4 linked regions of the Homo sapiens genome follow. The protein of the gene in region 1 interacts with the protein of each later gene in a pairwise test. Each region holds a gene or a part of one and is shown in the gene's direction. Other genes may lie near its edges. The genes, in order: WAC, AKAP9, MTUS2 and KRT15.

Region 1 (7,993 bases):
GTGTTTAGTGTGATTTGTTATCAGGAGTCTTATTGTAACGCTTAAGCATTAGGTTTTTTGTCTGAGAAACTTTAAAGAGTAAAGCAGAATTGAAAGTGGAAATTTTAATTTTGTAAGTTCATAAAATTTAATGATAATACACCAAAGTTTATGTTTAAATTAGGGAGTTTAAGGTTTCAATTCTTTCTCTCTTTTTTTGGGGGGGTGATGTTTTACAGGCACTTAAGTATTCATCGAAGAGTCACCCCAGTAGCGGTGATCACAGACATGAAAAGATGCGAGACGCCGGAGATCCTTCACCACCAAATAAAATGTTGCGGAGATCTGATAGTCCTGAAAACAAATACAGTGACAGCACAGGTCACAGTAAGGCCAAAAATGTGCATACTCACAGAGTTAGAGAGAGGGATGGTGGTGAGTATCTTTCTTGTTGAAACTTTGACATACAGTTTTAACAATAGCTCTATATAAAAGGCGGCAGTAGTATTTCTAGCTTGAAGAAGTTACTGTTCAGTTATGTCATTAAAATATTTTAATCCTATCATTTTTTTTTTACTCTGAACAAGTTACTGTAGAAACAAGATGCTGATGTGAGCATCTAAAAAGTGGACTCTTAAGGCCAGGCGCGGTGGCTCACGCCTGTAATCTCAGCACTTGGGAGGCCGAGGCGGGCAGATCACCTGAGGTCAGGAGTTCAAGACCAGCCTGGCCAGCAGGTGAAAACCCATCTCTACTAAAAATACAAAAGTTAGTTGGGCATGGTGGTGGTGGCAGGCGCCTGTAGTGCCAGCTCTTCAGGAAGCTAAGGTAGGAGAATCACTTGAACCTGGTTGGTGGAGGTTGCAGTCAGCCTGAGATGGTGCCACTGCACTCCAGCCTGGGTGCTAGAGTGAGACTCCATTAAAAAAAAAAAAAAAGCGGACTTTAGTGTTTAATAATAAGGGAATGCATTTATGAATATAGTTTAAAACATGCTTTCTTAAGGATGGGAAAAATGCAGGACTTTTTTCCAAGAAAGGAACTTTGACCTTTTAAAGATTTCAGTTTGAGATCCTTATTGTTGCTTCAGTTTGTTACTTTTTAAGGTGTTCAAATCTGTTTTCTAATTACAATGATAAACTATGAATTTAAAAACTCATTATGTTTTTTCAGGATAGTTCCCAGATTTAAAAAATTATTTATGACTTAGAAAATACATTCTTGCTTTTTGTTGTAAACATTTTCAGTATTCTCCAGTTTTGGTGATGTGATTTTTATACCTGGTTCATTGAAATATTCTTTTTAAAAGTTAGTCTGATTTCTTTTGCACAGTCCTGTACCTTCAATTATAAGTTTGCCTCAAGCTCTTTGTGGTAGGAGTCTGAGAATAAGTAAACAAAACCAATTCTCAGTAACTATTTTCAGACTTAATTTGCCCGAATTACATTTCATGTCAAAAGCATGCATTAAGGAACAAAGCAATTTCAGTAAAGACACCTATATTCTCTCCTACATGTTGCTTAAGTAGATAACATATCTTAAGCAGATTTACAATATTAAAAGCTTCCAAGGAAACTCAGTAAAGTACCATGTGACTTTTTGCCCCTATTGGCAGCTAGTTCTTCAATACTTGGCTTACTTTAAAAAAAATACCTTGCATCTTGCCCCTTTTGTCCACCTAGGATAGAAATCAGCTTTATTCAGTGTGATCATATACTGAGAAACATTGGCTTCCTCTACATAATTACTGGTTTGAGAAAATACAGTCAGAAGATTGCACTGGGATTGAATAATTTGGATGAGAAGAAAGTAGTTCTCTATTGAATGTAGTTATAGCTTAGTGCTATTTATGCAGATAAACCACATTTTTGTAACAGTAGTAGCAGGTGTATTTGATTATTAAAGTGTTACAAGTTATTGGGTTGCAAAATTAAGCTTTTAGAGTTATCAGTTTTGTGGGTAAGTTTTCCATAGTATTATGTAAAGCCTGAGATGGTACTCTCTATCAACCACTCTTCTATAGTGGATTTCATTTCTAATGTTAGCTCTTGGAGAGCAGGTACTGGTTGTACTATACTGTATTTATTTTGAAAAATTTGGTGATTGTAACAAAATAGGATATGGCACCTCATCTTCTTACAAATAGGCTCTTATTTTAGTGACTATGATCCAGTTTATCCCCAAATGCAAGAAGTCAGTTTTTCAGTTATAAATGCTTTCAATCATTTCCAGCAAACCTTGCTCAGCCAATTCTTTTACAGGTGAAGTAATCCCAAGAACATTCTGTTGCTTATTCATTCAACAAACCTGGGGCATCTACTGTGTGCCAACATTTGTGTGATACTCCTGGGAGTCAAGATGTGATCCTGGCCTTGAAGCTATTCTTAAATGCTTTGACTCTTGAGAGCTAGTGGTGTTTTAGCCACTTACTTTTTCTGTACCCATTTTTTCTTCACTTTGATTTTTTCATTTTTCTACCTGTATGAACTCCAGGTACTTGTTAGCTTTTCGTTTTTAAAAATTTGCATCTTTCCTGATGTTTCTTTAGCTTCATTTGCAAGAAACTTGATGTTTTTCTGATCTAATCACTTGCTAAGTTAGGCCCCACTTTCCAATTTTCTTTCTAGCTGATTGTCGTCTTCTGGAGTCTTCCAGCTAATACTGTGATTCCATTCCTGTCTCTACCATCTCTAACATACCTGGCTGCCATATTCCTTTATATTATATGGAAATAATAATATGAGGTATATCTCCATTCTGGAATTGAGAGTACATCTTTGATATTCTCTCTTCAAAAAACGTAAAATGGTGATTTTTCCTCATTTTATAGTGAGATATTTAGTCATTATAATTTGTTTTCTGGTGTTTATTTTTTATTGCTAATGATGTGTTTGGCACTAAGATGTTAAAAGTGTATATGTATGATTTTTATTGCAGGCATTATAAACTCCTTTGGATTTTTATCCAAAAATGAATTCAGGCCGGGTCAGTGGCTCACGCCGGAATCTCAGCACTTTGGGAGGCCGAGGCAGGCAGATCACCTGAGGTCAGGAGTTTGAGACCAGCCTGGCCAACGTGGTGAAACCCTGTCTCTACTACAAATACAAAAGTTAGCTGGTTGCGGTGGCGAGTGCCTGTAATCCCAACTACTAGGGAGGCTGAGGCAGGAAAATCACTTGAACCCAGGAGGTGGAGGTTGCAGTGAGCTGAGATTGTGCCATTGCACTCCAGCCTGGGAGACGGATTGAGACCCTGTCTCAAAAAAAAAAAAAAAAAAAAGAATTCAGCCAGGCACAGCTGCTCATCTCTGTAATGCTGGTTGCTTGGGAGGTTGAGATGGGAAGGTCCTTTGAAGCCAGGAGTTTGAGACTAGCCTTGGCAACATAGCAAGACCCTGTGTCTACTAAAAAAAAAAAAAATTTTTTTTTTGATTAGCTGGGTGTGGTGGGATGATTGCTTGAGCCCAGGAGTTTGAGGTTAACAGTGAGCTGTGGTTGTGCCACCACACTCTAACCTGGGTTGATAGAGTGAGACCCGTCTGTTTAAAAAAAAAAAAAAAAAAGAAAAAAATTAATGTATATAAATTCAAGACCATTATCAAAAATCAAATGCAAGTGAGTTGGATTATCTAAGCTCTAAGCATGTAAAAAACTTAAGATTACAGCAGGTTACTTACTATATGCATTGAACTACTGAATTCAAATTTCCCAGTTTTTCATTTTAAGATTTAATGATTTTCTTTACTAATAATAACCTATATGCTATGATTTGTAACTTGCATTTTACAAAGCAAGTTAAATGTGGAACTTGTGCGTTTGTTTACCTTAGGATTAGGCTTTACTGGCATCACAGCATTTTTCAGTAATTACTAGATTTCTTAGCATCTTGGATTTCATTGAAAAATGCTCGTTCAGAAGTAATGTATGAAAGGACTTGCAGATACAATATAAAAAGTGAGAAATCAGGGATTGTGAAGGTTTTTATTCCCAAAAACCTTGCTAGTTAAAATAAGACTTGCTGTAACATAGCGTGTATAGTTTAGAGTTAGAGATTTTATCCATTAGGATTTATTAAAGGAAATAATGTCTATTGTAAATTTAAGATAGGTTATGTGAGAGTATAATTAAAATATTTTTTTGTGAAATGAGTTATTTTTATATAGTCTGTGATCTGTCTGAAAACATACAATCTTGTTTAAAGTAACCAAAAGCAAAAACCTTAAGGTACAATCGTTAGGGTTTGTTTTTTGGTTTTTTTTTTTCTGGAGACAGAGTTGCCCAGGCTGGAGTGCAGTGGTGTGATCCTGGCTCGCTGTAACCTCTGCCTCCTGAGTTCAAGCGATCCTTCTGCCTTAATGTCCCAAGTAGCTGGGATTACAAACATACGCCATCATGCCCGGCTAATTTTTGTATTTTTAGTAGAAATAGGGTTTCACCAAGTTGGCCAGGCTGGTCTCAATCTCCTGCTCTCAAGTGATCCACCTGCCTCGGCCTCCCAAAGTGCTAGGATTACAGGCGTGAGTCACCGCGCCTGGCCCATAGTGAAGTTTTTATTTTGTCATTTAGCTATATCTTTGGAAAAATTTGGAAATGTATTTTCATCTCCCTAACTTTCAAATAAAAGTTACTATTAACATTTTGAAGGAATTAGTAGGGATTATTTGGTGATAATGTCTTTTTTTAATATAATTTAGTAACGTTTGAGTCTTTCACATTGAATAATAGACTGGCAGTTGAGCAACATGGTCTTACCGTTGTTTAGATGACTTTGAAATATGCTTTGAGTTAGTAATGTTACAAATTACTAACATTAGAAATGTTGTATAGAAAGTAAGTATACAAATTAACAGTCGCTTTTGATACTCATGTTAACTTTGGAAGACAACAGATAGTATCCTTATTTCCAGTTTTACAAATGAGGGAAAATTTAATAAAATTGAACAGAGAGCAACAGCTCAGTCTAGAAACTAGTTCTCTAACTTCGGTAACTTGTATGCTGTCAGAGATTAAACACTTGGGTATTGAAAGCTTATTTGGTGGTGGTTACTATGGCATGAATTAGTTTGAAGGCATTTTTGCTTTTATCCTGCTAATATCTTCACCCTTCTTCCCTCAGTGGTTACAACTTGCCAAATTATAGTACCTTGATAAGATGTATTTGTGTAGTTCTAGGCGCAGTTATCACATCAGTGTTTTATTTTCAAAAATAAGTTTTGACATGGAAGCATGACACAGATTTCACTAGGAAAAGTCCATTTTCTCTTAATCCCTCATATTTAAAGACTTGTTTACGAAGTGGAAACATTGCATAGAATATAATACACTAACGTTTGGATTTTAATAATACGTTTGACTGATGTTAAGTATTTTTTGTCTAGTAAAAATAGTGACACATGACCTTTTTTCATTGATTTATGCTTTGTGATAATACTATGCAGAAATGTTTGCATTGGATTTCCATTGGTCAATTTAGAAAACACAGGAAACATACTCTGTTTCAAGAGAAGTGGAATAAGATTGAAGGAGTAGCAGTCTTAATGTTTCAACTCTTCATTGTTTTTTTTTTAATTTTAGAAAACAGTGTCTGTGATGTAAGCATCTGTGCATGTAAATTGTTAAATTTGAACACTAGTACCAAGTCATTTGTCTTACGCTTCTCATAATCACATTTTAACTTTTTATATTTTTAGAGAGATGGTTATTATGTATTGTTTATAATTTAATGGTATTTCTATTTTACAATCAGTATTTTGGAATGAGTTCACTTAGATCCTTAGATCCTTAAGACAGTCTTAATTGAACTGTTTTCTAGTTGTGCAGGAAGTATTTAAAATTTTTGGTGTAACATACTTGGGGTTTTGGTCTGTAATTCACAGAAAATTTATATATTCTAATTTGTGTCTATTAAGCATCTGTTACCTTATTCTGTTGTGCAGAATTGTTTGGGGGGTAGTGCATCATTTTGTTATGATGCTGGAAAGAGTGAAGATGGAAATAAGCTGGGCATTTGGGATGCTATACCAGGCACTAGATATAACTCATTGTCAATTTGATAATTACAAAACCAATTTTTGTGGGGTTGTGTGTGTGTGTGTTTTGTTTTTTTTTTTTTTTTTTTTTTTTTTAAGACAGTCTCACTCTGTACCTAGGCTGGAGTGCAGTGGCACGATCTCGATCTCACCTCATTGCAACCTCCACCCCCTGGCAAAATCAGTTATTTGGTTATTTGGGGCTTGCAAATATATTCTATGAACAGTCCTTTTCAGGATTTGTATGATGCTTTATAATTTTCAAAGGGTTTCTATATTGTTTCTCATCTGACTCCACAGTAGCTCTTTGAAATAGGCTGATCAGTATTATTCCTGTTGTACTGATGAAATTATAAAGTATTTAGCCTACTGTTGTTGAAACTGGAAAGGAAGTCTCTTCACATAAAATTTTATCTCTGCCTTCAAATTATACTCCAAGTATAACTAATTCTCACTATTTTATCATTTTAGTTCTGGCTACCACCTTTTCTTAGCTTGAATTCTGCAAGAGCCCCCTAGTGTTCCCGAGTCCATTTTGCTTTGTATGATTGTTTCCCCACACAGTAGCCAGAGTGATCCAGTTAAAATGCCAGTCACCTCACATCTCTCTCAAGCTCACGGCCCTCCAGTGACTCCCTGTTTCTTAGCAAATCTTATAATAGATCCTGTGTAATCTGGTGTCTGGGTATTTTTTCAGCCTCTTCTACTATCTTCCCCTTGTTTGTGCTACTCTCTCCATACTGGCCCTGCAGGCAGAAGTTTGTTCCTGTCTCAGGGGCTCTGCACATTATGTGCCTTTATGTTTCTCCTACTGTGCTCACTCACTTCAGTAATGTGTCTGCTTAAGTGTCACCCTCTCACAGGGCCTTCTCTGCCCTTGCTGAACACTCTGAAACAGTCATTCTCATCATTGTCTTTCCTTGCCCCTGCGTGTTCCTTCCTTGTATGAAGGTGACCTGTTATGATTTACTTATAGTCATTCTGCTATAACATGACATGGGCATTTCTGAAAGTCACGGTGCTGTGCAACATTGCACCAGACCAATTTATGGGGAAAATGGAGTTAGGAGCACAGTAACCAAAAACATTGTCAGTGACACATTTTAAAAAGATAGGAACCTAATAAAAATTGTAACTTAGTTTTACACGTATAAAATGGTTAAAGAATAACACCGCAATAAATGGCACTTTACCTTGACCAAAACCTGACTTCTTGTGAAAGTGGCCACTCATTGGAAGGGTTGCAGTTCATGAATTACTGTAAAGTGATGGATGGAAGATACCTGATACGAGACAAAAACTTGTAACATCAAATGTGGATGGACCTGACTCATAATTCATGATGAACTAAGATAGCTATTAGATGTTTGAGCTGTGTCTGCCTTGTAAATTCCTGTGCAGCTTGATGTAGCTAGTGTTTCTCACAGGTGAAAATACACATAAGTGGGAAATTTGCTGGTTTCTGATAGATCAGTAGCCTTCAAACAAATTTGTCTATTTGGAAACAAATGTTATAGCAGAACTGACTGTATTTTAGTTTTTGTTTGCTTGCCTTTTGTGGAATATAAGCTCCACCAGAAGAGGAAGTGAGAGTTTTAATGTTTTTATCCACCTTGTATTCCTGTTACCTTGAATAGTGCCTGAAACTTTATAGCATTTAACTAAATGGATAGATAAAAAAAATTTGGATTGTTATAATTTAAGGGGAATGAAATTATAGTATTTTGGATTAGCATTCCTCAAACTTGAATGTGTATACTAAGCACCTGGAGATACTATAGTCAGTAATTCTGGGGTGGGTCCCAAAGATCTGCCTTTTAACAAGATCTCGGGTGATACCTACACTTCACTAGAGTAACAAGGTTCTATAGCAGCACCGTCCAGTGGAAATATGTTGGCCACAAATGCAAACCATATGTGTACTTTTCTAGTAGCTTTGCTTAAAAACTAAAAATGATTCAATTTTAGTATATTTTATTTGACCTA
Region 2 (8,159 bases), on another chromosome or scaffold:
GCTGCTGCAGCTTTTGTGAGGTCAAGGTTTAAGTGATATGTATTGGTGACTAAAATGAAATGACTGATAGGTTGTACCTGACTAATTTGTGAAAGATCAAATAACATGGAAATGACAACACATCCTGGGAGTAGGGTGGTGGGGTGGTGGAGAAAGCTCAAAATATTTAACTACAGTATTAGAACAATCTTGTTTGCTGATTCACATAGGTATCCTACATACACTAGTTTGCTATCTTACCAATGAAGAACTAGTACCATTCAAGTGGAAAATATAAAAAGTATCTTTAGAAATCTTGAATTTAGGCCTGGCACGGTGGTTCGCACCTGTAATCTCAGCACTTTGGGAGGCCAAGAAGGGTGTATTGCTTGAGCTCAGGAGTTCAAGACCAGCCTGGGCAACGTAGGGAGATCCCATCTCTACAAAAAAATTTTAAAAATTAGCCAGGTGTGGTGGTATGCACCTATAGTACCTGCTACTCAGGAGCCTGAGGTGGGAGGATCAATTGAGCCTGGAGGGTTGAAGCTGCAGTGAGCCGTGATCGTGCTACTGCACTCCACCCTGGGCGACAGAGTGAGAACCTGTCTTAAAAAAAAAAAATCTTGTATTTAATCTCTCAGGGGAAATGAGTGTTGTGCGGTATTCTTACTATTGGAAGGCACATCAACACTAAAAGAAATGTAGCTTAATTAAATCATGAATTTTACAGATGTTATAAACAGAATCACTAGAATGTAACCCCAATAGAGGAGACCAATTAGATTTTATTTCCCTTTTCAATTCTGGTCCATTGGACATGACTGCCAGAGGCTCTTTATTGAGAAGGATACTGAAGCAGTGCTTGCACTCATTTGGAAATAATTAATGATTGATTTACAGTGCCTTCTATGGAAGCCTCCAGTGACCTTCACCTTGCTATATCCAATCCTCATTTTACGTGACCTATTAGTAGCAGTTGTCTTGGTTCATCACTCCCTCCTCCTTCACTTTCTTCGCTTGGCTACTGATTCCTTTCACATATCTAGCCACTGTTCTCAGTCTCATTTGCAGATTCTGCTCACCTTGCCTCCCTCTTAGAGTTGAAGTATTCCAAAACTCAGTCTTTGTAACACCTTTCTATCTAAACTTGCTCCTTAAAGCAGCATGGTCCAATAGAAAAATAATGTGAGCCACAAATGCAAGCCACATATGTAATTTGAAACTTTGTAGTAACTTCATTTAAAAAAAAAAGAAACTGGTGAAATTAATATATATTTTATTAAACCCAATAGGTCCCAAATATAATCATTTTAATAATATAAAAATAGTGCAATATTTTGTTATTTTATTTTAATATTAAGTCTTCCAAATCCAAAGTGTTACACTTACAGCACATCTCAATTCAGACTAGCTAATAGCTGTTGTATTGAATAGCATGGCCCTAGATTATCTCATCCAATTCCTTAACTTAAAATACCATCTACATCCTGAATACTGACTACTCTCACATTTCTATTTCTAGCTTGGACCTGTCTCCTGAATCCAGACTAACTGATGTCTTAGGGTGACATCAGTTCTTGGATGCCTAATGTGTATGTCTAAATTACCATGTCCAAAACTGAACACTTGGTCCCCAGATTTTCTCTTCTCCATTTTGGTTACTGGCAACTTCATCACTTCAGTTGCTCAAGCCAAAAATGTTGGAGTCAACCTTGACTTTTCTTTTTGTCTCAAACCTCATATCCAATATACAACTCCTATGATACTATTGGTTCTATGTTCAAAAGATATCCAGAATCTGATTCCATATCTTTTCCTCCACTACAGTACTATGGCCCAAATTCCCATTATCTGGGATTACTGAAATAACATCCAAACTGATCCCCCTTTCTCCTCATAGCAGCCAAATGTCCGTGAACAACATAAGCCAAATCATGTCATTCATCTGCTCAAAATTCTCCAATGGCTCCTAATCTTACCCAGAGTAAAAGCTGAAGTCCTTACAATGACCTTTAGAACTCTACAGGATCTGAAGCCGGGCATGGTGGATCACCTGTAACCCCAGCACTTTGGGAGGCTGAGGCGGGCGGATTGCTTGAGCTCAGGAGTTTCAGACCAGCCTGGGCAACATGGTGAAACCCTGCCTCTACAAAAAATACAAAAATAAGCTGGCTATGGCAGAGTGCGCCTGTGGCCCCAGCTACTCAGGAGGCTGACGTGGGAGGATTGCTTGAGCCCGGGAGGTTGCAGTGAGCCAAGATTGGGCCACTGCATTCAGCCTGGGTGACACAGTGAGGCTCCGTTTAAAAAAGAAAGAAAGAAAGAAAGAAAAGAACTCTACAGGATCTGGCCCCCTGTTACTTTTCTGACTTCATCTCCTACTATTTCCCTTGTTTATTCCACTCTAGCCACCCTCACCTCCTACTCTTCCTTGAGAAGGTCCATCATGGTCTCGCTTGAGGGCCTTTCTTTGGATTTGCTGTACCCTCAACTATCTCCGTGGCTCTCTACCCCCACCCACCACCTGCTTGTTTTTTGGGACAGTGTCACCTGTTGTCTAGGTCCTTACTCTAGAGTGCAGTGGCACAATCTGGGCTCACTGCTTTGGCCTCCCGGCCTCAAGTGATCCTCCCGCCTCAGGCTCTGGAGTAGCTAGGACTACAGGCTCCCGCCACCACACCCAGTATTTTATTTTTATTTATTTATTTATTTATTTTGTAGAGACAGGGTTTCGTCATGTTGCCCAGGCTGGTTTCGAACTCCTGAGCTTAAGCGATCCACCCCGCTCAGCCTCCCAAAGTGCTGGGATTACAGGCGTGCACCACCCCGCCCAGCCTCCTCATCTCTTTCAAGTCTTTGCTGAAATATCTTCTGAAAGAATCACCTGAGTAAGTGAATGACATGACATGAATTAATGATTGGTATGACAAGTTATGACAGAATAGGTGCCATAAGGAAGAGTCAGAACACTAGTGCCCAATGCTTGCTCTTCTAATAGAAGTTAACACAAATCTAACTTTCAACATTGATTGAGCACCCATTATGTAAACTAGACATGTATATGATTGGCTGCTATCAGTGAAGGAAACATTGAAATAATCTTGTTGCTTTGGAAGGTATTCTTGAACATTCTCAGCACCTACAAACAGCTGACTTATTTAGTCACCGAGAAAGCAGTATCCTTTAACAAACAGGAATAGCTTTGGATACCCTGGGGCTTCCCCCTCCTAGGCAATCAGCATCTACACTCATAATCCCTCAATCCAGGCAGTATTTAAATCACTGCACTATTAGAACACTTAGTTCTAGTCCTTACTCTTAATTTGATGGGTGACTAAGTAAATCACTTATTGCCTCAATTCTTTCATCCCTATGATAAAATGTCTAATTTTACCTGGTTCCTAATTCAGGTTGAGATAACAGGACAATATGCACTTGGCTGTTAGAAGTTGGCAGAATGTATGCATTACGGAGCTTAAGAAAAAAATCTTTTTTAAAGCTAAGATTTCTAAATGAGGGCTATTTAAAACTCATCTTCAGTTTGTGGTAGACTTAAGGTCTTTATTATCTCCTTTTTTGTTTTTTAACCTCAATTTTTCACTTAACACCACTTCTACGCTTGAACTCATTTTAGCCTATTTTTTGTTCACAACTGCTAGTTTTTCAGTCCAACCTAGCTCAAAGCAACGGAGAAACATGATAAATCTGAGTAATCAACCAGAGACATTAAAATGTGTAGTTCACTCCAGGAATGGATGTGAGCATTGGAGGGCAGGGAGACGAACACAAAGGACTGAGGGAGCACATGTCGGGGAAACAAGGAAAGATAGTAATGTTAAATTTATAAACACTGCTCAATTCAATCCAAAAAGCGTTTATTGAGTGCAGAGCTCTGTGCTGGTCATTTTAGTAAAGCCAAGATGAGCAAGACTTATGATGAGTCTCTGTCATCAAGGAGCTGGGAGTATGAGCTGAACTAAGACGCACACAAATTATTAAAATATGGTGCAGGGTACTTAAAGGAAGTCCAAGGAGAAATAAAGCTGACATTATTCAGGACGTTTTAATATGTCAGGGCAGTCACATATATTAACAACCCTTCCAAAAATTCCAGGTAGGCTCAGGGAGGATAGGTAACTTGTCATTAACGCTAGAAAGTTAGTGTAGTCTGGCATTGTCCCTAACCGAGGTTCTAAAGCTCAGGCTCCTTTCAGAACACTACTGTTAAAGGGAAGCCCCAAAGAGTCGGGGGAGGGGACTAAGTTTTGACTGGATGTGTCTCGGTTGCCGTGGAGGGAACAAGAGGTCAGAAAAGCCATTTGGAGGCAGCGTGTGCGATGGGACTATAAGGATGAACCGGAGATTGAGTGGGAACCAGTGGAGGGAAGAGGGAGGGACTTTTCAGGCTAAGGAAGTAATAAGAGCAATTAGCTGCTCTCATAATTCTTGAGTCAAGCAGTTAATGTAGGTAGAAAACCTGGCGTCCGCCCCCCCACCACCCCCCACCGGAACTTTTCCGTTGGAGCTTGTAGGTGTTCGCCAATTTCACCATTAGGTGTGTTAGTTTTGTAACCTGAAGGAAAAAAAAAACTCATGTTTTAATAGCAGTGGATTCCTCGGACGGAGGGTGGGGGTCAGGCCAGGAGCCTCTGGCACACTCCGTCTCTCCTACCCCTCAGCTCGGCCGCCACCTGTGAGCCGTTGATGTGCGGGAAGGGCGCTCTCTACGGCGGGATCCTCGCTGGTAGGAGGCAGGTCCCAGGCCTGGCAAGGGTTGACCCCGGAGGGCTGGGCCGGGGCGGCACCCCAGGAGCACCTGCCCACGAGGCGGCTGCGCGGACAGACGTTCCAGCCCCTCCCGCCTCGCCGTGTGTTTACGTGGAGACGAAGATGGCGGCGGCGGCGGCGGTGACGGCGCTTCCCGTGCGGCTGAGGACGATCCGCCAGTGAGCGCGGAGACTGCTTCCACTTCGGGCGGGGGAGCGCCGGACCGAATCGGCTCTCTAGGCCGTGGAGCTTGCCGTCCCACCTCCGTCCAAATCGACCTTTCCTTTCTATCCCCAACCACCCCTCAACCCCTGTTTTCCCCTGCCTTCCTTGCAGAGGCCATGGAGGACGAGGAGAGACAGAAGAAGCTGGAGGCCGGCAAAGCCAAGGTAGGAGAGCCCGAGGCAACCGGGCCTGCGGTGGGAGGCGGTGGCTAGCACGGGGTGGGAGGGGGCCTGGGAAGCGGAGTTCGCCGCAGCCCCAGTGCACTGCCCGAGAGGGAGGTGCTGCAGGGTCTTAGGGTCTGCATCTCTCCTCGCCCTCCTCCTTTCCCCTTTTTCCAGTTGGGGGACAAAGCCTTGTGCTAGCTGATAATACTTCCGCGAGGATTGAATATTGTGGCTCCTTTCTCGTGAATGTCCAAATAAAACTCCCCTTTTACTGTATTGCTGTAAACTAGTGTTTAGTTGCTTCTAAACCTCCGATCTTTCATTTTTTTAAGGAGTTTTCTGGGTGGTGCAGGCATTGTGCTTTCCAGGGTGGGGATTTAGGGCTTTTCTTTATTGGGTTGGGGATTTGTGCGCTGATCATCAGCTTGTCTTCCTTAGGTAGCACGCTGGCACTCTTGGGTGTGTGTGATTGGCCTGTGACAGCTGTCTCAGCAGTGGCTTGTGTGTGCCACAAGTGCCAGCTGTGAACTTGGCTTTAGGGGCGTTTTTAGAAGCGTGTCTTTGTATGTTTGTACTTGAAGGTCTTTGTCATGGCATGCGCTTTTGTGTCCTATGGAATGTTAATGCAGTCTGTGAATGGAACTTCTGAGGACCGAAAGGTTCCATATGCCAACACCTATAGAATTCCTGCTTTAAATAATTTAGTTGTTATATATCTCTCTGGCGAATCCTGGTTGTGTGTGTGTGTGTGTGTGTGTGTGTGTGAACGGTTATGGAAAAGCCTGTAAAGCAAACAATACAATACACAATTATACACAGGCATCGTTCATTGGGCTTCATGAGAAATTTAACATATACAGAATATAAGCTGCGTAGCATATTTCTTTTAAAAATTACATATTTGAGCATATATTTTGTCTGGGCTCAAAAGCCCCCTTCCTCCCTTCAATGAAGTCTTCTTTTATGGATTATATTATTTTTAGAGATAATTGTTAGCAGTCATACTTGGACAAAAATTGTATTACAGGTAACTGTTTTTCCTCTCTTCCTTTCTCTTCTCCTCACATAAACAAAGGAAACCAGGTTAGTGATTTATTATCAATGAAGGGCCATACCGCAGAGATGCAGTGATAGAAGCTCAACACAAGTTTGTTAAATGAATATATATATAAAAACTAGCTTCATATTTCTAAAATATAGTTGACTTTCCTATAAGCTCCCTCTATTTAAGATCAAGGTTTAAATGCTTGTATATAGCCAGGTAAATTTTTACTTTCGAATCTATAAATGGTGGGAAAGGGGAATCAGGGTATCTTTAGAAGTCCAAAGCCTACACTTGTGCAATCTGAGGGGCTGAGCAAGCTCTATGCATCTACGGAAGTAGTGGAGGTGAAGTGTGTGCCCCTCCAAAAGCATTGAAGATCTGATTAGATGTCTTACTTGTCTGTTACCTCACAATTTTTATTGCCTGCCCCCAGAAATGTCTTTCCTGAATATATGTGAAGCAGTCCTACAAAACATGGTTTACTTTGGACATACACATTTCATAATAGAGGATTTATTTAAATTGCTTGCAGTTGTAGTTGATGTGGCAAAATACAATTCTAGTTTCTTTGTGTGTTTCTTTATCTTTCAGAATTCTATGTATGGGGTAAAAACCTGTTTAAGGTGAATTTTTGTTGTAAAAGATTATCTTCTTTTAGAATTTAGCCCTTTTTCCAGTAAGATATAAATCTATGAGACTTGTAAGGCAAGGTGTGTTTGCTGCAACATTAGCTATACAATATAAAAATGCTGACATTGGGAGCCTGGGGCGAGAGGATTGCTTGACACCAGGAGTTCAAGACCAACCTGGGCAACATAGTGAGACTCTACAAAAAATTAAATAAAAAAAAAAAATAGCAGGGCATGGTGGTGTGCGCCTGTATGTAGTCCTAGCTACTCAGGAGTCTGAGGTGGGAGGATCACTTGAGCCCAGGAGTTCGAGGCTGCAGTGAGCTATCATCATGCTACTGCACTCCAGCCTGGGCAACAGAATGAGATCCTGTTTCAGAAAACAAACAAACAAAAAAAAACCCCTGGAAATAACTTTTAAAGACAACACGAAGGGAATCATTTTCTAAGTTATATAAATATGATGGAATATTTTAAAGCCATTAAGATTATGAAGACTGATAGGAATATGAAAAATAGTGTGAAAAGGGCATTATCAAAAATAGTATGTACATTATTTCATTTGTATAAACGTGTGCTTTCAGATTAGAACTGAAAAACTCTGGATTATAATTTTATTCAGCAAACGTATATTGAATCCCTATTTTATACCTAGAGGTGGTGACAGTGTCTGCTCTCAAGTTGCTCACTGTTTAGTGGGAGAGACAGACTCTGGGTGATAAGTACAAAGAGGGATGAGCTGCAGTAGGATTTGGGGGATATTCTTCCACGTTTTGTTAAAGTGTTTTAAATACTACTATGTCATTTTATAGAATTACTAAGAAAGCTTTACTATTGATATTAATGCACCATAATATAATGCCTTTCAAATAGTTATTCATACATATTTGCTTAATGAATGAACAGAATGATTAATGAGTCATTAATAAGTGTTACTTTCCTAGCACGGTTGTAATTTAATAACATTAATCTAGAATTCTCTTAATGTGAAATCCATATTGCTGGCATCAGAAACAACTTTAAATGATCATTTTCCAAAGTTTATCTGAGACTTCATTCTGCAAATGTCTCATTTGTTCACTGGACTTAAGTATTGTATTTGATAATCTAGTTTTGCAAACCACAACTTACAAATCTTTTTGGGGGTAATTTATTGATAAACAGTTCCATTGGAAAATTCCCTTTCTGTATCTAAACCTTATAAATGATCACTTTTTAAACAGTTTGTCATGTATGCAGTATAATATATAGTATACTGTATAAAATGTTTTATACTACCCCAAATCTGTAATAATGGGTTAATAAATTATGATATGTAAAATAATTCTACAAAGACTTTTTGAGTGTGGA
Region 3 (8,109 bases), on another chromosome or scaffold:
ATATATATATATATATATATATATTTAATTCAAGAGAACATTCTACTCTTCCTTTCACAGCTTTTTTTTTTTTTAATTTAATTTGGCTGGGCGCGGTGGTTCATGCCTGTAATCCCAGTACTTTGGGAGGCTGAGGCGGGCGGATCACTTGGGGTCAGGAGTTCGAGAACAGCCTTGCCAACATGGTGAAAACCCATCTTAACTAAAAATACAAAAATTAGCCTGGATATGGTGGCATGCACCTGTAATCCCAGCTACTCGGGAGGCGGAGGCAGGATAATAACTTGAACCTGGAGGTGGAGGTTGTGGCGAGCTGAGATTGTGCCACTGCACTCCAGCCTGGGTGACAGAGTGAAACACCATCTCAAAAAAAATTAATTTTATTTTAGATTCAGGGGGTACATGTGCCTGTTTGTTACATGAGCATACTGGAGATTGGGCTTCTAGTGTACCCATTACCCAAACAGTGAACACTGTACCCCATAGGTAATTTTTCAGCTCTCGCCCCCTGCCCACCCTCCCCTCTTTTGGTGACCCAGTGTCTATTATTTCCATCTTTATGTCCATGTGTACTCATTGTTTAGCTCCCACTTATAAGTGAGAATGTGTGGTACTTGGTTTTCTGTTTCTGAATTACTTCACTTAGGATAATGGCCTCCAGCTCCAGCCCATGTCACTGCAAGAGACATGATTTCATTCTTTTTGATGGCTGCATAATATTCCATGATGCATTAATATATGGACCACATCTTCTTTATCCAGTCAACTGTTCATTGACATTCAGGTTGGCTCCATGATTTTGCCATTGTTCTTTTCACAGTTTCTAAATACAGCATAACCAACTGTTAAAATAAGACTTATCTTGGAATGCTGCCAGGTGGGCCAATAGATAACTATGACAGTTTGGGACCTCTGAAAAGCAGATGTCAAGATAGGATTAGATGTGCCAAAATATTTTAAAGAAAACACCTGTGCAGGATAGTGCAGGAGGGAGAAGGAGCCTGGCATGCAGGTGAGGAGTGCCTTCTGACTGCAATACAGGTCTGACACTTGTGAATGGAGAGAGGGAAGGGAAGAAGATTGGGTAGGAAGAGCTCCAGACTGCAGCACATTCTGAGAAAGCCCTGGTAGGGTGGTAGGAATTCCAGAGCAAAGACTGCCCACTAGAGGCAGAAAGGGCATAGCTCTAGCGCTCTCACCATGTTCCGTTGTGAGCTGGAAACAGCTGGGGAATGTGTGACCTTGGTATGAGCTCTGTGGTGGATCCAAATGTGTGACAGCTGAAGGCTGTCAGTTGCTCAAGCTTCCAAGATCTCAGGGGATCACCTCCCTCCATGCCACCACACAGATAGGTATCCCCACACATAAATCCATATAAATGGAGGTATTGGACCATCTTTGTAGGATTTGCTAAGTTGGGGTTCTGCCACCTTCAGACCAAATTGAAGGAAAGGAGAGAGCAATCAAGGGAGAAGATGAGAACGACACGGTGCTGACAGGGAGAAGGAGGACCCACCCACTTCATGCAAAGAAAGGCATGCTTCCAAAGAACTACTTGGAGAGCCTGGCATGTGTCACCTGGAGTGTGGGGACATGCATGAACCCAGAGATGGCTGAGAAGCTTCAAGGAAAGAGGCCGGTCAGAGTTACCTGTGACCAGAGAAGAAGAAAAGAGAACTGCAGTGACAGTGGCCTGCACTTCTATAGCGTGATGGGCCAAATGCCAGTTGGTGTCCGTGGGTCAGCACGCACGTGGTGGAAGGTAGCTGGGACTGACTGCCAGGGCATGGTGCCTTGCAGAGGGCCTGAATGAGGCTGACCACCAGTGAAGCTGAGGCTGAAGTTGCAGGGTCAGAACCCCACCCTGCCCAACTTGAGAAACCAGTGTTTTTTTTTTTTTTGAAACGGATCTCGCTCTGTCGCCAGGCTGGAGTGCAGTGGAGCGATCTCCGTGAACTGCAACCTCCACCTCCCGGGTTCAAGCGATTCTCCTGCCTCAGCCTCCGAGTAGAGGAGCCTAGAGGCATGTGGCACCATGTCCAGCTAAACTTTTTGTATTTTTCATAGAGACGGGGTTTCACCACGTTGGCCAGGATGGTCTCGATCTCTTGACCTCGTGATTCATCCACCTCGGCCTCCCAAAGTGCTGAGATTATAGGCGTGAGCCACCGCATCCGGCTTCTTTTTTTGACAGAGGCTTGCTCTGTCGCCCAGTTGGAGTGCAGTGGCATGATCTCGGCTCATTGCAACTTCCACCTCCCAGGTTCAAGCAATTCTCCTGAGGAGATGGAATTGCAGGTGCACGCCACCACACCCAGCTAATTTTTGTATTTTTAGTAGAGACAGGGTTTCACCATGTTGGCCAGGCTGGTCTCGAACTCCTGACCTCAAGTAATCCACCGGCCTCAGCCTCCCAAAGTGCTGGGATTACAAGCGTGAGCCTCCGTGCCCGGCGGTGGAACCCGTCTTCACAGAGCTAGCTGGGGAGAACACAGAAGCAGGAAGCGAAGGTCGTTTTCCTCCTCCTTGCAGGCTTCTGAGCTTGGGTCAGGTTGGGGTCTGGTGGGTGGTGGGAGGCTAGTGGGGAAGGCTTGAATGGATTGCGATTAAAGTTTTGATTTGGATTGGGCTGGACTTTTTATTATCAGCAAATCTGACTGTTTATGAACACCTGAAAGTGACAGGAAAAGCTATGAAATTTGCCCCAGATTCTTCCAGGGGAGAAGGGAGAGCTTCTGGAATAATTTTTAAAGACAGTGGTCTGAAAAAAAAAAGTGCCATTTCATGATTTCCCTTCACCAAGTAGTCCAGTTGGTTAAAAAAAAAAATTAACTGTCATAAAGTATTGGTTAACACAGTGGTTTGGAAAGACATCCCCTAAAAACAAAAAACGCCAACCTAAATAGTGCAAAGACCAGCAACATCGTTTCATCTTTATAATGGTAAATGTTTATTCCATTGCTGTTTGAATCAGTCTGCAGAAGTCCTCTGGTTTCGCTTGCCTTTTCAAACCTCCAGGTGCACCGCGTGAGGGAGTCTGAGCATTTCAGGTAGGACTGGAAAAAGGTCTTTGAGAAATCATTAATTAATCTATTTACCTTACCATAAGAGCAGTCAAGGCTCGCTGGAACCCCTCGGACAGTGGGGAGGCACATTTGGTGCTCATTAAACATAGAAATAAGCTTGCTTCTAGAAAGAAACGCCTGCCTTTTGCGCAAATCTTTTCAGAGACTGGCTTTGGGCTCCTATGAATCAGGCACCCTAGCGTCCTCCAAAGTTCTTCCCGATGCTGAACCCCAATGCCTCCTGCTGCGCCTAATTCGAAGCGGCTCCCTCTTCTGTTCTGAGCGGAAAACAGCGGAACCCATTCCTGGAGGCCTGCCCTGGAACGGCCAACTCATTCTTACTCCTTTCTCCTGGGGTCCGATGCTAGGGCACCACGGTGACCAGCCGCGCAGCGGGCAGCGGCCCGCGCCGCGCCCACCGCCTGCGGAGGCTGGGTCTGGGTCTGGGTCTGGGGCTGGAGCTGGGGCTGGGGCTGAGGCGGGAGCTGGGGCGGGGGCGGGGGCTGGGGCTGGGGCTGGGGCTGGGGCTGGGGCTGGGGCTGGGGCGGGCAGGCGCGCGCGCAGGAGCGGGCGCAGGGGCCGTCGGCAGAGGGCGCTACGGCTCCCGGCTGCGGAGCTGCGACGCGGGGCGCGGGGCGCGGAGCGCGGGCCGGGAGGAGGCGCCTGGGTCTCGGCGAGTGCGTCTCCGGGCGGCCGGGAGGGGGTGCGCGCATCAGCTGCCCCGCGCCGCCTACCGCTCGGGCCCGCTCGCCGCCCGGCCACTGTCACCGCGGACGGCACCTCGCGGGCGAGGCGCGCCGGCTGCGTGGCGCGCTGCGAAGGTTGGGCTGGGCGGCCGCCGGCCCCGCGGCTTCTCTTTGTCCAGGCGAGGCGGCTGGAGGAGCAGCCGCGGCCGCGGCGGAGCCGGGAGCGCCTGGGCGTCGTGCGGGCGGCTCCGGTCCCCGGCTGCGCCCCGGCCCTCGAGCGGGGGCGGCGGCCTGGGCGGTGCCTGCGCCGAGGTGAGTGCGGGGGCGCGGAGCGGAGCGCAGCCGCGGCGCGGGCGTGGGCGGGCAGAGGTGATAGCGAGCGCCGGCGGCTCCAGGTGCGGGGGCGCCCCTCGCGCTCCACCTGCGCCGCCGCCGCCGGCTCTCAGGGCAAGTTTATCTCCCCCCTTCTGCGGAAACCCTTGACCGCTTAGCGGAGTACAGACCTGTCGGTAAATAGAAAACTCGAGCTGGAGAGGAGGAGGAAGCAGCGTGGCGGAACCCGGCCCGAGATGAGCGTCTCCGTGAGGGCAGTGGTGGCCTCTTGGACATTACATCTTTCTTGGCTCTTTTTGACCCAGGTGAGCGAATCCTCTGCTGCGCGGTCCGGTGGGGTCGGCTGGCTCTGCTGCCGCCCTCTGGACCCGCCGGAGACAGGTGAGCGGAGTTGGGGAGCGCGCAGCCGGGCTCGGGGCAGCGCCGGGCTGGTTCGGCTTCTCGTCTCCAGAGCGCTGATGCTTCCTGCCCACATCACCTGCTCTGGCTTAGGGACTGCAGCTCTTTTGGCACCTTCGCTTGCTGCCAGGTTCAACACCCACTGCTTTAGAGGCGTTGGTAGGTTAGTTAAGGCGAGTTCTCCCCTACCCACCCCCAGCTTTGGATAATTTGGTCTGAGTCTTCGTCTTAATTTAGTATGAGTGTGTTATTTCCTTCAAGCTTTATAATGGTAAAGCAGTGAAGCGGCTTGCTACATCCATTTTTTTTTTTCATTCTGTGCCTGTGCACAGAAGGAATTACAGGCACACAAGTGATGTTACTACCATTCTATTTTAAATACAAACACGGAAAGAAGTACTCTTGGCAGGATACCAAAGGCGCCTGTACTCTCTGTTATATAAATGCTTAAAAAAATTTGCTCATTGGTAAAGTTATGTGTGATTACCAGAGCACCTAAGAAGAGAGTGTCATGCTTTTAGTTTACTTGGAGATAAGCAGTGGTCTTAGCTTGAGGTACCCTTTTAAGATAATATAGGACCCTATATTAAAAAAGTCATTAGGTATAATTGTAAAGCATTAAAAAATTGGTTTTGTAAAGTCTATTAGGAATTGGTGAGAATTCTTTGACTACTTATTGATAAAAAGATCCTACATGTATACTTTCTAGTTTTCAAACTATTGAATGATTTTATTTTTATCTCTGATGGAAACTTAGTAATTGTGAGTTGCCAGTTATTAAAGATGTGTCTCTCTTTCCCTTCCCTTTCCCCAGGCCCCAAAACCAGTACTCACATTTATGGCTATTTTTTTCAGGTAAAAATACAAAAGTAGAAAACATCAGATATACTGATGGCTGGGAACAGCCCTTGTCCCTCCTCCACCCAGTATTCTGTTCTAATTGGTCTGGGCTGATACCTTGATACCTGTAATGTTAAAAAGCTTTCCTGGTGATTCTAACGTGTAGCCAGGGGTGAGACCCATTGTGGAGCATTGTATTGTCACTTTCTGTAGCCTATGGTGTTGCTACAGTGGTTTAAGGTAAGTCAAAAATACGTTGTTAGAAACATGGGAAGAAAAAAATGGTATTGGAAAGGGGACACATCAGAGAATTACAGCATGTAGACTTTTGTGTTTTGTCTAAATGCTCTTTCTTGATTTTCCTGCGAAGAGTAGTTGATGTTTATTAGGGACCCATAATTCCATGTAGAATACTTACGGGAATCTTAAGTGATATATTTCATTTGCAGAAGTACCAATGAAAGTTGAGTAGTAGTGGCAGGATATTCATTTATGTTTACACGGTAAAGTAAGTCATAGGAAAGATTATTTTCCATATCAAATTAAAAACTTTTACTATAAACTAGTAAATTAAGTGCAAAAAGTTTTTATTGTTTTTAAGGTCAGAAAGAAACCTGGCCTCTGAGTCAGTGTTTTCTGTCTCCCTTATGTAATCCCAAATATCCAAATCTAGGAGCAGATCTTATGGATGGTTTATGAAGGCTTATGTAAGAGCTATGACTGTGCTTTTGGTACTCCATTAAACTCCCTGTTTGGGCTATTACATAATTGACACGGAACTAGACTGTTAAAGCCAAAATCCAGGAGGATGCCGAAACCCACTCCGGCATACGCACTTTTATAATGAATTGCTGTTGCCAAATTGGAGGGAACAGCAGGGATGGTGGTTTGTGAAAGAGAGGTAAGAATAGCATCTGGGGGATTGATGTAATAGAAGACTGTTATGCTTAGCGATTTTCTAGAGATTTGAATGCTGTGGCAGAAACCTCTCTAGTCCTTTCTATCTCCAGCAGAGGCAGATCGACTGGGGAGCTAATGAACCTAAGCCTCAGGTCCCTCCGTCACAGAGGCTTCTTTGGAGCCCTCTGGGAGGGGCACTGGCAGTGTGTTCATGTGGTCATCCCTGAGTTTGTATTTGTACTTTTGGATTTTTTTTTTAAATAAGGAGAGTACTCTTTCTATATTCCCACCCCCCAATTATATAAACCCAAGGTTCCACAGACCCTGAATCTATCCCTGTCTTCAAACCTGTGTTCAAGTATTAACTTATAAAATTGCCTATTCTTAGTTTAATTTTTGTCATCTGAAAAGATGAAAAAAATCTGTACAATATCATAGTTGACTTGCTGAGAAAATGCAAACTGCTATAACCTAGGGCTGTATAGAGCCACTGAAATCAGGCACATACCTGGAGAACTAGCTCTTTGCCTCGTGATCGCACACACATGGGATTGTTTTGGATCAGTGTGTGAGCTGGAGGTGGAGAAGAGTGGAAACGGGTTGGGGAAGGGAGGAAAGTGGGTTAAAGCTCTTCCTCCTCTCAGAGGCAGGATGCCAAGGGGAAAGGAAGGAAAACTATTGAAAGATGCTTCATTAATAAAATGTTAATAGGAACAGATAGCATCAGCTCCATAGGAGATCCTTCTGTAAGCTCAGGATTGGTCTCTAATACGAATTTTCAACAGTAAGCAAACAAACTCATTCCTCGAAAATATCCTACAGGAAACAAATGCAGGTTTGGAAGGACTAGATGAGTATCTGCTTGTTCCCATTAGCAGTTTTTATGAGCAAGTGGGAGGCTTATAATATCTACCACACACATGTTTGAAACGAGTTGTTGAAAAGAGTCAAGGAGTTTCCCCTTTTCTCTGAAATGATTTCTACTTCCTATGTGAATTTGGATGCCTTTAGATCTTATCATCTTGACCCTTCCCACCAACGGGTATACCTTGTCTATCAATTACCCATCCATCAGTCATCTATCTACCATCCACCCACCCATCCACAGAGACTCTCTTTTTGACCAAACTTTAGTCAGGCTCCCCTGAGCCCTCTTCTCAACTGGGCCTCAACCTTGGCCCGTAAGAACTGCAGCTTTCAACACAAACAATTTTGTCTGTGCTCCCACCCTCCAACGGATTTGAAAACACTGTAGCATGGTGTATTAGCCTGTTCTCACCTTGCTGATAAAGACATACCCAAGACTGGGTAATATATAAAGGAAAGAGGTTTAATTGACTCATATAGTTCAGCATGGCTGGGGAGGCCTCAGGAAACATAGAATCACGGTGGAAGGGGAAGCAAACACGTCCTTCTTCACATGGCAGCAGGAGAGAAAAATGAGCAAAAGGGGGAAAAACACCGTATAAAACCAGCAGATTTCATGAGAACTTACTGTCGCGAGAACAACATGAGGGTAGTTCCCCCATGATTAAATTACCTCCCACCTAGTCCCTCTCATGACACATGGGGATTATGGGAATTATAATTCATGATGACATTTGGGTGGGGACACAGCCAAACCATATAACATGGCATCTAGCAGCCTAAGGCCATGTGTCTGGGATCACCCAGCCTCACTTGCATTCCTACCTAGAAAAGCTCAAGGCTGCCCCAAAGAATTTATCTTTTGTTCTAGCCCACACAAATGATAATAGGCCCCTGACTTTCATTTTGTTAGATCGTTTATTAAAAACTTACAATTGTAATTCTTTCTCTGTGCCTTTGAGATATATGTGTATCTCCTACCACCTGGAGTGTCTTCCTCAGTGTCTGTGAGCCATTCC
Region 4 (7,868 bases), on another chromosome or scaffold:
GTCCCAGGAAAGGGAGGGGAGGGTACTCACATACTTTGCCTGTAATGGTAATTCCTGTTTACAGAAGTCTTCATTTATTTAACCCGTTCCTTAAAATAACCTCATGAAATAAGCATTGCTTCCATTTTACAAAAGTAAACTAAGGCTCAGAGAGGTGAAGTGTTTTTTTCTATATGTAACTGCTCTAATGCATGGCAAAGGTGGGATTTGAAATTGTTTTTGCTTCTAGATTTAGTTTTCTTTCTACTCTACTCCCCAGGGCGTTGAGGTATCTGTGTGAAATTAATGTTTATTGAACACCTACTATGTGCCATTGAATTAAAAACAGCCCTAAAAGGTAGTATGAGCTGCATGTTATAGATCAGGAAATAGGCTCAGAGAGGTTCAGTAACTTGTCCAAGGCCACACAGCAACTACATGGTAGAGCCAGGACTAGAACCTAAGTTGCCTGATTCTTAGCCCATGGTGCCAGCCCCTGCCAGGTGGTCTCCTGGAGTTGACGCCACTTGTGCCGGTCTTGCTGACATTCCAGTCTTGTGCCCTATGAAGGCTCAGGCCGGGGATCCCTAGGGGCAGTTCCTCCCGACACATTTCTCCACCTCACTGAAACTGGGGGTTTGGGGCCAGGCATCCCGCTTGGAGCAAGGCTGGGGAGGCTGTACCTGTCAGTGTGTGTTGTGTGTGTGCATGCACTAACACATTCACCCATTTTTGGGGCAGCCCTGCATAAGCCCTTTAACGCCCACCAGCCCATACCTGGGCCCAGAGCCCAGAATGGGACCCAGCAGTGACCCAGACCTCCCACAGAGACCCCAACCCTGGCTTGCCTGGGGCCTGCCCTGGGCCAGCAAAAGAACGAAGTCCCAGCTTCCTGGTACAACTCTGCCCTTGGGTAGGTATGGCCCTGCTCCTGTGGTTTACATCTCAGCTGCCAAGAACTGAGGCCAATTCAAGGTAAGGAAGAGGCCCCAAAAGAAGTCCCACTTCTTCCTGGTGGAGAGGTGAGGGCTGCAGGCCCAACCCTATGAGTGATGGGGGCAAGTGAGGGACACTAGTTCCACGCCCGCATGCTGCCAAATGTACTCAGCACCCTGCTAAGGAGGCTGGAGACCCCATCACGGCCATGGCAATCCCGAAGGAGGAGCTGTTTCAAGGTTGGTTATGAACATGTAACCCCAGAGCCCCGCTGCTGTAGCCTGGACTGGGACCCCCTTCTGCCCCCTCCCTAGCTGTCCTGTTCTGGCCTCCAGCACCCACAAACCACCACCCCCAACTTAACTTCTCAGGAAGCCTTGGAGCTGGAGGGAGAGGCCTGGCTGCACCCCCAGCTGGGACTGCCCAGAGGCGCTTGTCCCTGCCCATGAAAGCCTCCCTTGTCACAGCTGAAACCTTCCCTCTGCCTCAGGGGCCCCTGGAATGTGGCTGCGGGGCGGGGTCTGGGCCCACACAGGTGGGGCAGGTGACTGTCAGGTCTCAGGCCTGAGTGTCAGGAATGAAGCCTGCCTTTGTGTGTGCACAGTGCAGGGTGGGGCTGGACTGGGGACACTTTTCTGTCTCAGCCTGGAGACCTGGGATAGGAGGGAGAGGGGAGTGGGGAAGTTGAGGGGAGTGCCTTTACATCCTGCTGGTCATCGTGGCCACTTCAGTCTGTTGAGCATTTCCTGTGAGTCATCTTGCTCCAACTGAGAGTCAGGCTGAGCTGGAGTTATTTCCATTTTCCTGATTGGTAGACTAAGGCTCAGAGAGAGGAGGCGGCATTACCCAAAGCCGCACAGCTGGTAAATGGGAAAAGAGGGGTTTAAAGGTAAGTCTCTGGGCTCCAGGACACACCCCCTCTCCCTGGCATTTCCCTGGGGAACAGGAGAGGTGTGGGAGGGTTCTAAGGTTGTTGGAGACTTCATTCTCCTTGTGCCCTCAAATGCTCACTATGGCCCTGAGGGGAGTCTGTGTTAATGGCCTAAGTTTAAATCAGGAACCAGGCTCAGAGAGGCTGAGTCTCTTTCCACTGGGCTGCACTGCCTCATTCTAAGGAGAAAAGGCCAGCTCCACAGATGGCCCCATCTGGCTGCAGTGGGCAAAGGTCAGAAACTGGCACAGCATCCTGGGCAGGCTGCCTGGGGCAGGGCCCGGGGCTACAGCCTGGGCTGGGGCCAGACAGAGCTTTATCTTCGCAAGGCCATCCCACCTGGTGCTAATGAGGAGGCTCCGGGCCCCACCCAGATCTGGAGCTCACAGTAGCGGTTTGGACTGAAACCAGGGATTTGTGCGTGGGGCAGTGAGGGGGGCAGCTGCCGCCCCTGGCCTGGGCCTGAGAGTATAGAGAAAGCCACCTCGAGGGGCTGCTGGAGGAGAGTCAGGTGCAGAAGGGGATCTGGCTGGGGTCCAGCCCTTCCTCACCCTGGGGTGAAAGGCGAGTAATTGTTCTTGAGTTAATTGCTGGGGCCACAATGTCTGCAGAGGCTTTTAATGAGCTCTGGATGATCTGAGTTTGATTATTTTTCTTTCGGAGGAAAAGACAATACCCTCCCACCCATGAGACAATACCACACTGTCTGTGCCCAGCATTGGAGGCCAGGCTCACTGCGAAGATGGATGAGAAGGAACCCACCCCCAGCCTTGCTGGCTGGCAGTTCCCCTTGCCAGCCCAGCTCAGATGCAGGAATTTGGGGTCTGCAGGAAGGACTCTTTCCCTGTGCCCTGTTTGGTTGAGGGTGTGAGGACCTGTTTGAGTCCTGGCTTTGCCCCTTACCAGTGGTGCCACCTGGCACAAGTTGCTTCACCTCTCCAAGTTTCAATTTCATTCTTTCTGAATCTTGGGTGGGGGTCACCCTCTGTTGTGAGGATGAGAGGAGGTGATGGATGCAAAAGTGCTTTGTAAATCACAAAGTGCAGGGTAGAAGTAAAGGATTATGCTATTATAGCAAAATAAGAACCTAAGAACAACCTGCGTTGCCCCATAGGAGCTGGCTATGGAAGGTCGATGCCGTTGAGCCTAAGAACATGCTCAGGCTCACAGGGCATGTTCTGATGCCCAACGACAAAGCCCCTCCTGGTGAGGGCACTCAGGCGCAGGTGCCGGTCATGCACCCTGGCCCCTGCATGTCTGGCACCTGGGTGGGGATCCAGGAGGGGGCAGGATGGGGGCTCTTGGGCCACAGGGCTTCCCTGGAAGTGAGAGTTGAGAGCGCCCCTTGCCACAGGGAAACAGAGACTTAAAAAGGTAAATGTCCACAGTCTTACCATGGTAATTGGTAGGGTCAGGATTTGAACCCAGGCCTCACAGTCTTACCATGATAATTGATAAAGCCAGGATTCAAACCCGGGCCTGAGGGACTCCAGAGCCCTGTCCACTTCACCATGCTGCAACCTGGGCTAGGAATCCTCCTCCTGAGTTTCTGTAAGCCCTGGGGCCAGGTCCAGAGGGCTGAGCCACACCTCCAAGTGGCACTGCCCACAGGTATCAGGTGTCCCTGGAAAGGTGTCCCTGAGCTGGTGGCAGAGAAAAGGGCTCTCCTGAGTGTTCAACTCCCCGTCTGTGTGAAGCAATGCCTTGGTCTTCAAGATCTCCGGTGTCTTCCAGCCTGCCTGCCAGTCTCCCTTCTCTTCCCTTCCACAGCATTCAGGCACATAGAGCCTTCTGCAGCGGCCCGTCCCCAGCCAGCACTTGACAGGACAGATGGGGGCTAATCTGGCCCTGCTAAGCAGCGACATGCCTCTCCTGGAGAAGGCAGGGGCTTCCTGGAACTTGCCCCAGCCTTATCAGCGGAGGTTTGCCCCAACACATCCCAGAAACGAGCAAAGGTTCAGCGCCGTGCAGTTGGCAGGTGTCGGGATCATCAGTCATCCCCTTGTCAGTCCCAAGCCTGCTGGGCTTTTGTGAGGGTGCCAGGAACACAGGCTGGAGGATGGCAGGAGGGGAGTAGAGGTGGGAGGAGGGGAGTCCATCTGCAGCACCAGGTAAGGGGATGGATGCTGGCTCCTCTGGTCACCTCAGCTGGAACACTACTCAAGGTCCCTGGCTCCTGTCCTCCACCTGCCCCCAGGGGCCCTGCATTCCCATCCCCAGGGCCTCCACTCTCCCTGAGCCCTGCAGTCTCTCACTCACTCACTCACTCACTCATTCACTCACTCACTCACTCACAGGGTTTTGAGTTGGATAACACAGCATAATGATCGGCCAGTGGACTCCCAAACTAAGAACACGGAGCTGTCCTCTTGGGGAGAGGCTCAGGGCTCGGGGAAGTGAAGTCCAGCTGAGGGCACAGTTGGCCTGAGCTGCTCTCAGTACAGGCAGAGGCCTTGGTAGCTGTGCTGTGATGAGAGTTCGCTCCCTGCTGCTCTCTTCTGGCATGGAGAGATGAACCTGTAATCCAAGTGTTAAAACCGTGCCCTGGGGAAAAACACTATTAATTCTGAATCATCTCTTTTGTTGCATTAAAAAAAAATAGAAGAGAAAAACTTCACATGACCCACTCAAGGTGTGCAGGCAGCTGTGTTTGTCAGGAAGGCAGAAGGAGTTGGCTTTGCTTTAGGGGAGGAGACGAGGTCCCACAACACCCTCTGAAGGGTATATAAGGAGCCCCAGCGTGCAGCCTGGCCTGGTACCTCCTGCCAGCATCTCTTGGGTTTGCTGAGAACTCACGGGCTCCAGCTACCTGGCCATGACCACCACATTTCTGCAAACTTCTTCCTCCACCTTTGGGGGTGGCTCAACCCGAGGGGGTTCCCTCCTGGCTGGGGGAGGTGGCTTTGGTGGGGGGAGTCTCTCTGGGGGAGGTGGAAGCCGAAGTATCTCAGCTTCTTCTGCTAGGTTTGTCTCTTCAGGGTCAGGAGGAGGATATGGGGGTGGCATGAGGGTCTGTGGCTTTGGTGGAGGGGCTGGTAGTGTTTTCGGTGGAGGCTTTGGAGGGGGCGTTGGTGGGGGTTTTGGTGGTGGCTTTGGTGGTGGCGATGGTGGTCTCCTCTCTGGCAATGAGAAAATTACCATGCAGAACCTCAATGACCGCCTGGCCTCCTACCTGGACAAGGTACGTGCCCTGGAGGAGGCCAATGCTGACCTGGAGGTGAAGATCCATGACTGGTACCAGAAGCAGACCCCAACCAGCCCAGAATGCGACTACAGCCAATACTTCAAGACCATTGAAGAGCTCCGGGACAAGGTGAGTCCTCGGATGTCAAAGAGAGGGGAGCAGGTGGCTGGTACCCTGTACACAGCTCTAATGTCAGTGTTACTGCTGACTCAAGGAAATCCTTTCCTGCCCAGGCAATGACTGTCTGGTATGTAATCTCAGCAAATTTGGAATGCACCTGCTGTCCAGGTGCAGAGGCCAGTGCACATCTTCTCAACTTGGTGGTGCTGGGGGAGGGAGAGAGGGGTCTTGGGAATCTGGTTAGGACCAACAGGGGCACAGGTGGGGGCAATTATAAAGAGCCAGAGGCAGTAGCTCACACCTGTAATCCCAGTGCTTTGGGGGGCCAAGGTGATAGGATTGCTCGTGTCCAGGATTTAGAGGCTGCAGTGAGCTATGACTGTGCCACTGCACTCCGGCCTAGGTGACAGAGTGGAACCTGTATCTAATTAAATAAAAATAATTAAAAAAAAAGAGCAACTCGCCCTCCCTACCTCATGCACCCTGCAGGCTTCTGCATAAAGTATTCCTTTACCTCTTTTGCAAGAATGGGATTGGAGTGTGGCCTCATGAGTTCCAGATGCTAGAACCTCTTGTCTTTTCCTATAAAGAGGTCTTTTGTGCCAAAAGTACTGTTGGGTCTTAGGAGACCTGGGAACTCATTACACATTCTGCCACCCACTCACTCACCATTTTACTCCCTAAGACTGGGTTCCTCATTCGTAAAATGCCTTCTTAACTGCCCTCCAGGTTGCTACTGGCTGGAATGTTCTGTAGATCCATGGCTGTGTCCAAGGTGTGCAGGAGGCAGTGACCATGAGTTGTCCACAGTGGGGCTGGTGGAGTGTCTCTGAGAGAGCTATTGTCAGAGCTGGCTGCACCCCACTGCCCCACTCTCCTGGGCAACCAATTCCCACAGGCAATACTGCCTCCTTGGTCTTTCGTGCCCTGGAGATAAGGAAGGCAGCTCCTCAGGTGTCTCAAGGAGGCTGGATGGGACAAAACAAGAAATGGACACTGAAAGTGAGGCTGGACTTTGCCCACCCCAGAAGCCGTACAGATTTTTGTTGGTGGTGTCAGAGGGGTGATTGTCAGTGAGGGGTGATTTTCAATGAGGGGCTGGCCTTGGGTGCAGAGCAGAGAGCAGCAGGGGAGAGAGAGGAGTCCTCTAGACACCGACTCTGTCTCCTGCAGATCATGGCCACCACCATCGACAACTCCCGGGTCATCCTGGAGATCGACAATGCCAGGCTGGCTGCGGACGACTTCAGGCTCAAGTGCGCTCCCCCGTCTCTCTCCTCTTCCTGCATTGCCCACTTTACTTGGCCTTCTCCTGGCTCTGACTCAGGCAGCCAAGACCCCTCCCACTTCCTTCTTTGGCCTCCCTCTCCTCAGGTATGAGAATGAGCTGGCCCTGCGCCAGGGCGTTGAGGCTGACATCAACGGCTTGCGCCGAGTCCTGGATGAGCTGACCCTGGCCAGGACTGACCTGGAGATGCAGATCGAGGGCCTGAATGAGGAGCTAGCCTACCTGAAGAAGAACCACGAAGAGGTGAGAGCTGGCCCCCATCACCCCTGAACCCGAGAGAGGTGGGGAACCTCTTCCCAAAACTCACTTAAATTGCCCAGAGGGAAAGACAGTGGCTCCAGGAAGCCCTCCCAGATTTTCACGAGATTAAGTCAGTGGGAGGCAGAGTGGGGCTGTTGGTACTTCCTCATAGTTGGCCTGGGGCTTAGTGGTTCAGAAACACACCTACCCCACAAAACCAGGTGTCCTCATGGAGAGGAAGGGGCAGTGTCTGGTAGCCCAGGCCCACAGCCAGCCCAGGTGGCCCGTATGAATGGTTGACTTCCTGATTGGCTTTGTGAGCTCACATCAGGGCCCTACAGTCTCGGGGTCCTCCCTTGGTAGGACCTAGAGCAGCAGAGAACTCCTTAGAGCTGAGGGGTCCATGTGACCAAACCTCTTCATGTGCAATGGGGAACAGCGGTTGGGGTGTGTTACGGGCAGAGCCAGGATTGGCATGTGTGACGCCAGACTCTCAGGTCTCTCTTCTGCTCTCCGTCTCTAAGTGGGTCCCTCCCATCCTGCAGGAGATGAAGGAGTTCAGCAGCCAGCTGGCCGGCCAGGTCAATGTGGAGATGGACGCAGCACCGGGTGTGGACCTGACCCGTGTGCTGGCAGAGATGAGGGAGCAGTACGAGGCCATGGCGGAGAAGAACCGCCGGGATGTCGAGGCCTGGTTCTTCAGCAAGGTGGGCCTTATATCCTGCCCTGCCCTTCCTGCCCCAGGTCCCTGAGTCTCCGAGGAGGCCCCGGGGCTCACTTCTGTTGTGCATGACCTACAGACTGAGGAGCTGAACAAAGAGGTGGCCTCCAACACAGAAATGATCCAGACCAGCAAGACGGAGATCACAGACCTGAGACGCACGATGCAGGAGCTGGAGATCGAGCTGCAGTCCCAGCTCAGCATGGTACGGCCACTCGCGCCCCATCCCAGCCTCTCGGGTGGTAGAAGCTCCCACTCTTCCTGGCTATTTAAGCCTTGGAGTTCTCAAGCCCCCTCAAGAGGTGGTTCCCTGAACTCCATTCAGTGCCCCCTCCCTGCTTGCCCTCAGTGGCTTCCTTTCTAGCCTGATGTGTCTATGCATCTGTCACTCCCCCAGAAAGCTGGGCTGGAGAACTCACTGGCCGAGACAGAGTGCCGCTATGCCACGCAGCTGCAGCAGATCCAGGGG

Evidence for each region.
Region 2: the proteins of WAC (region 1) and AKAP9 interact in binary tests that used the Homo sapiens proteins (3 or more experiments, as listed by UniProt).
Region 3: the proteins of WAC (region 1) and MTUS2 interact in binary tests that used the Homo sapiens proteins (3 or more experiments, as listed by UniProt).
Region 4: the proteins of WAC (region 1) and KRT15 interact in a two-hybrid assay, tested with the Homo sapiens proteins (4 studies listed by BioGRID and IntAct).

Annotation. Positions count from the first base shown.
Region 1 is NC_000010.11:28,535,344-28,543,336, forward strand, and holds part of WAC (WW domain-containing adapter protein with coiled-coil), read left to right. Parts: intron 1-200; coding exon of another isoform or gene 201-218; coding exon 219-414; intron 415-7,993.
Region 2 is NC_000007.14:91,936,013-91,944,171, forward strand, and holds the start of AKAP9 (A-kinase anchor protein 9), read left to right. Parts: upstream 1-4,849; 5' UTR 4,850-5,087; coding exon 5,088-5,135; intron 5,136-8,159. UniProt on the Homo sapiens protein: Scaffolding protein that assembles several protein kinases and phosphatases on the centrosome and Golgi apparatus. Required to maintain the integrity of the Golgi apparatus. Required for microtubule nucleation at the cis-side of the Golgi apparatus.
Region 3 is NC_000013.11:28,816,223-28,824,331, forward strand, and holds the start of MTUS2 (microtubule-associated tumor suppressor candidate 2), read left to right. Parts: upstream 1-4,116; 5' UTR 4,117-4,389; intron 4,390-8,109. UniProt on the Homo sapiens protein: Binds microtubules. Together with MAPRE1 may target the microtubule depolymerase KIF2C to the plus-end of microtubules. May regulate the dynamics of microtubules at their growing distal tip.
Region 4 is NC_000017.11:41,515,621-41,523,488, reverse strand, and holds the start of KRT15 (keratin, type I cytoskeletal 15), read left to right. Parts: upstream 1-4,598; 5' UTR 4,599-4,661; coding exon 4,662-5,159; intron 5,160-6,271; exon of another isoform or gene 6,272-6,323; coding exon 6,324-6,406; intron 6,407-6,524; coding exon 6,525-6,681; intron 6,682-7,202; coding exon of another isoform or gene 7,203-7,223; coding exon 7,224-7,385; intron 7,386-7,478; coding exon 7,479-7,604; intron 7,605-7,796; coding exon 7,797-7,868.